Linked DNA regions of Homo sapiens: region 1 is linked to region 2. Evidence: fine-mapped expression QTL. A gene starts in region 2. The other region holds a variant in brackets. All regions are shown on one strand. Distances are between the middles of the regions. Region 1 overlaps SNX31 (sorting nexin 31). Region 2 holds the start of SNX31 (sorting nexin 31).

Evidence for each region.
Region 1: its variant is fine-mapped to the expression of SNX31 in tibial nerve (GTEx, PIP above 0.99). The same link has a PIP of 0.9 or more in esophagus muscle, skeletal muscle, stomach and visceral fat.

What each region holds. Positions count from the first base shown.
Region 1 is chr8:100,615,683-100,618,182 of GRCh38, forward strand. SNX31 (sorting nexin 31) reads right to left here. Exons shown (of 14, transcript NM_152628.4): 5 at 1,938-2,048. Among named protein-coding and RNA genes, the nearest start is that of SNX31, 33 kb to the right of the region's middle. The variant C/T (reference allele first, on the strand shown) is at 1,281.
Region 2 is chr8:100,648,656-100,651,630 of GRCh38, forward strand. It overlaps SNX31 (sorting nexin 31), which reads right to left and starts at 1,010. Exons shown (of 14, transcript NM_152628.4): 1 at 794-1,010; 2 at 619-693. The coding sequence starts at 859.

The sequences.
Region 1 (2,500 bases), 33 kb before region 2:
GTATAGTAGGCATGTTACTGTACTAAATACTCTAGGCAACTGTAACATGCTGGTAAGTATTGGTGTATCTAAACATATCTATTGTTATTATTATTATTATTTTTGGAGACGGAGTCTTGCTCTGTCGCCCAGGCTGGAGTGCAGTGGCGCGATCTCGGCTCACTGCAAGCTCCGCCTCCCGGGTTCACGCCATTCTCCTGCCTCAGCCTCCTGAGTAGCTGGGACTACAGGCACCCGCCACCACGCCCGGCTAATTTTTTTTTTGTATTTTTCAGTAGAGATGTGGTCTCACTGTGTTAGCCAGAATGGTCTCGATCTCCTGACCTCGTGATCCGCCCACCTTGGCCTCCCAAAGTGCTGGGATTACAGGCGTGAGCCACAGTGCCTGGCCAAAACATATCTAGACATAGAGAAAGTACAGTAAAATATTGTATCATAAACTTATGGGACCACCATTGTATATGCAGTCCAATGTTGACCGAAACGTCATTATTATGTGGCACATGACTGTAATTTGAATCCAGGACTCATCCTAAACCCAGAAGATAGGAGACCCCAAACTATCACCACCACCACTGGCTTCAGCTGCAGGCATGTCTAGTTTGGTCAGCAAGCCCAGTGTGTAAAAAAAGAAGTCAATGATGATGTCTTTGGGGAAGGCAGGTGCTCTCTCCTGTTCTATATCTGATCCTGCAGCTGTACCCCAGAGCTACCTGCCTGGCCCCAGACACATGCAGTCTGTGGCTCCCACTCTATCACTGCCTTCCTACTCCTCCTTCATTTATGAGTCTGTCTCCCACTTCTAGATCCTGAGCAATTGAGGTTTTTGTGTTTGGGGTACAAACTCCCTCAAGCATCAAGGGCTTTTGATACTTTTTAGAAAGACTATGCTGGAAATCAATACAGAAGATTAGCAAGACTGGAAGCAGGGAGACTAGTTTAGGGGCAGCTGTAGAGATCTAGCTGGGAAACAATGAGGGCTGGAGCTAAGGTCAAGATGTAGGATCGAGAGGAGGAAACGGAGAGACGATGAATATAAGAGAGACTGGAGATACAGGAATAGGTTAAGTCAAGGCAGGCCCGAAGAGCTAGCAGCCAAAATGGGAGTGCTTCCGTTTCTCAGCTCAGAAAGGGTCAGACACCATAACCCAAGCACAAGAACGTTCTGTCCTTTGAAAGGTCCTAGAAACTTTCTGACTCTTCTTCATGTTTATAACTTTGTCTTTTCTCTTGTATGTTTCTCTGGAGGATTAGAGCTAAAACCTTCCAGAGGAAAAGGG[C/T]CTGGGAGCTTGCCCCCAGGCAGCAGGATGTGAGTGTGAGAAGACAGTGTCCCCTCTGCAGCCCCACTCAGCAGATGGAAAAGGGGTCTGGGAGGCAGAGCTGCTGAAGAAGGATGAAGCCTTCTGGGTCTTGTCCTATTAGTCCTCAGACAGTGGACTACAACTCATGTCTGGGCCCTCTGCACCCAGAATTAGCCCTGATGGAGCACTGGTTTCAAGAATTTTCCCTGTGGGAGAATAGGAACCTTCAAGAACTCCCCTGTCACCTGCACACCTAGGTATGACCTGTTTCAGACTCTGCCAAGCCCCACTTTCCTTCCTGCTCCCAACGATGGGACATCCAGTAATAAAGCATTTTACATATTTCCAGGCCACATCCCTGGCTAAGTTCCAAGGAAGTGACAGCAGCCTTCCAGGAGATCTCTGGAAAATTGGTGCCCCCAGGGAGGGTGAAATCAAAGAGGCCCTGGAGGATTGGCTGTATCTTAGGTTCCTTGGTTGTTCTCCCAGCAAATGCCAGTACCTCTGCAGATAATCATCCACAGAGTAAAACAACAGGCCAGAAGCTCCTGGAAGGTAACCGTATCCCATTCTCTGCTTTCCAAACAGAACCATCCCTAGATTCAGTTCTGGAGCTGGAGTTTAAACAAAGCTTACCTCTAGGACTCTTTCAGCAGTGTCTGATGTTATAATTTCGATTCTAATACTCTGTTCATTGGGCAGAAATATGTCCAGATAAGCTTTCTTGGTGGCGATGTCAAATGTATTCTATAAGCAAAAGAAAAGCAAAATAAATTTCCACACCTTTTTTTTTTTTTTGGAGGCGGAGTCTCACTCTGTTGCCCAGGCTGGAGTGCAATGGCGTGATCTTGGCTCACTGCAACCTCTGCCTCCTGGGTTCAAGTGATTCTCCTTCCTCAGCCTCCCAAGTAGCTGGGATTACAGGCACCCACCACCACGTCCAGCTAATTTTTTGTATTTTTAGTAGAGACGGGGTTTTACTGTGTTGGCCAGGCTGGTCTCAAACTCCTGACCTCAGGTGATCCACCCTCCTTGGCCTCCCAAAGTGTTGGGATTACAGGCCTGAGCCACCACGCCCGGCCTCCACACCATTTTTTAAAGCTGCACCATTGCAGCAAGCGAACAATCCACAGCTTCCTTTTTTGGTGCTCTTCTAGCATATGGTACCCAAAGTTCCCAAGAGACAAGTGCAGAGATTG
Region 2 (2,975 bases):
CTAATAAATCAGTCTGCCTCCCAGAGAAAATACTGTCAAGACAGCAGGGTGAGAAACTATCCTAGCTTGGTAAGTCATGTTCCCTGGTTCCCAGCCTGCCAGTACTTGAAGCCTCATGGCCATTCAAAAACAAAACTAGAGACACACCTTTTTAAAGGGGGCAAACTTAAGAAACTCTCGAGACAAAGGAGATTAAATACCCATGTACAAGACTCCAAAGACTCTAGGCCTTGATCTAGACCCAGTTTCCAAATTTTGGAGGGAAGCATTGTCCTGGGGAACAGCGGGCACTGAAATGGGGCCCAGCATAGCCCCAGCGCCCTGCCAGGCGGCGCTAGCGGGGATCACCCGGCTGCAACTGCGAGGGGCTTGGAAGAATCACCTGCGCCCGGTTCCCTCATCTCACAGCTGTAGGCGACCAGGAGCCGCAGCATGCATTCATCCAACTGTATGCCAAGCAATTCAGTTCATCCTTACCAGGACCCTGTTTCACAATAGGAAGCCCGAGGCCGTGAAAGGCCCAGTGTCTTGCCAGAGTCAGAGGAACAGAGCGCTTTGGGGACAGCTTTCTCCACCTGTCTCAGTGGATGGGCTCGTACCCGCCTCCAATCTGCTCACCTGTTCGTTCCAACCGTGCAGCTGGCTGTAGCGCACCCTGCAGAAGAGGAACCCGTCCAGGTGCACGGAGTACAGCTGCAAACACACAGACACCCCGTCCCTGGTGAGCCGAGGGATAAGTGAGCATTGCCACCGGCCCCCTCCCTGCCCACCCTGACCCCAGCCCTGGGCGCACCACGTAGCGGCCCCCCAGCGCGTCGGACCGCTGCTGGGACACCGGGATACAGAAATGCATCTTCATGGCTGAGCGGTGTCTTGGGAGTAGCGCTGGGAACCCGACCTGCGGCGGCGGGCGGTGCGCGGCTCTGAACTCGGCAGCGGTGGACGCAGCGCGGCCTGCCACGCGACTCAGAGCGAACCCCGGCGCCCGCTCTCGCCGGCCGGGGACATCTACAGGTGGGGCCGGGGCCGGGCCGCGCCGCCTCCCAGTCCCCGCCCCATCCAGCCCCGCCGCTCTGGTCCCGGGATAGGTGGCGCCTGGGGCTGGGGCGCATCCACGGCCACCCCCACCCCGGACATCGGCCACTGTTGGCATTTTCTCCAAGAAGGCCCGTGAGGGGCTTGAAAACAGTTTGTGTCCCATTACCTGCCAACGCTGCCTGCAGTGCACTAATTAAGATTTCTGTAATTACATAGATCTAGTAACTGCCTTATGATTAGCAGAGTTATGTTTGGTCAGTTTTTTTGTACTGACATTTGTTAAATGTAACACAAGACATGCAGCAATATATGCAACCTTGCTTTCGTATTATTCTTTCAATCTTGTTTTTTCCCCTTAAAATACCAGAAGCCCCCCCCAAATGGAAATGGCTTGGGTTTCTCTTGATCCCTGAGAAGCCCTCATTTTTAGACAGGTGCATTCACATAAACACTTGGTTCTCTGGACTACCCAGTGCAAGTTCTTTCAACAGTCTCTCATTTTTAGTTGCTGTGGAAAATAATCTTCCTAATTCTCTATTTTAGTTAAATGAAACTAGAATTCCTCCCACCTTGCCGTGATCACAGAGCACAGAGATGCTGCAGCTCTCACCAGCCTGTTCTGTAGCAAGCCTGGGCTGGCTCCGTTCTTCCCTCTCTCCTTTAATCTACCCGTAACTCTTCCAGGTAAACAGAGGACATCCTACCACGGACAAAACAGGCCCAGGGGGTGGAGGAACTTGTCCAAGCTCACAGGGCATTTTTTTCATGGGTCTGAGTCGTTTACTGCAGGATTTCATCAGGATCATTGAAAGTCCTTTCAAATGCCAGTCATCCCTGGGGTAAGAGCTGCATGCCTGAAACGGGAATCCGAGACTAAGGAAGGAGAAGCGACGCCTGCCAAACACCGGTGCCTCCTGCGTGCTTGCTGGGTGCCAGGACCTGACATATGCTATGCCATTTAATTTTCACAAACACCTGTGGGCTAGGAGCCATTGACAGTTCTGGTCTTATAGAAAAGGAAATTGAGGCTAGGGCCATTAAGTGAGGGAAGCAGTATCATATAGTAGTTAAGAGAATGGCAACAGGAATTCATGTCCCAGCTTAGTGGCTTCTAGTTGAGAGGCCTTGGGCAAATTAGTGTTTTTTGTGTTTTTTTGTTTTTTTTTTTTTTGTTTTGAGACAGAGTTTTGCTCTGGTTGCCCAGGCTGGAGTGCAATGGTGCGATCTCAGCTCACCACAACCTCTGCCTCCCGGGTTCAAGTGATTTTCCTGCCTCAGCCTCCTGAGTAGCTGGGATTACAGGCATACGCCACCACACCCGGCTAATTTTGTATTTTTAGTAGAGACAGGGTTTCTCCATGTTGGTCAGGCTGGTCTCAAACTCTTGACCTCAGGTGATCTGTCCACCTCGGCCTCCCAAAGTGCTGAGATTACAAGTGTGAAATTAGTGCACTCTTTAAGCTGCAGTTCCTTCTTATGAAATCATGTTAATAACTCTACTTACTTCAAGGGAATTTTCAGTCCAGGATAGATGGGCCTTAGGGTATTTCCCCTGCCCATAGGCCATCTCTGATCTGGAAGGCCTCCCTATACCAAGGCCAGGGGTATTCCTGAGTGCCTCTTGGGACAAAGCCTGATCACGGCAGCTCTGGAATCTGGTCTGATCTTCAGGGCAAAGCAGAGCATTTTGGTCAGACCCAGAAGTGGCCCCAGCTTTCCTGGAACTTTCCTGCTCCAGTGAATGGCCTGGACCCTGGTTTCACCCCATGGCATGTCCAAACAGGGCCATTTCCTTCCTTTCACTAAGTGCCCCCCTGGAGTTGAACTGGAACAGGACAGGCCTCTGTGCAAGTCACCGTCCTCTTGCATCCCTGACCTCTGCTGTAGCCAGTCAGCTCTTATTCAGTCATTCAGTCAGTGAACATTATTGAGCTCCT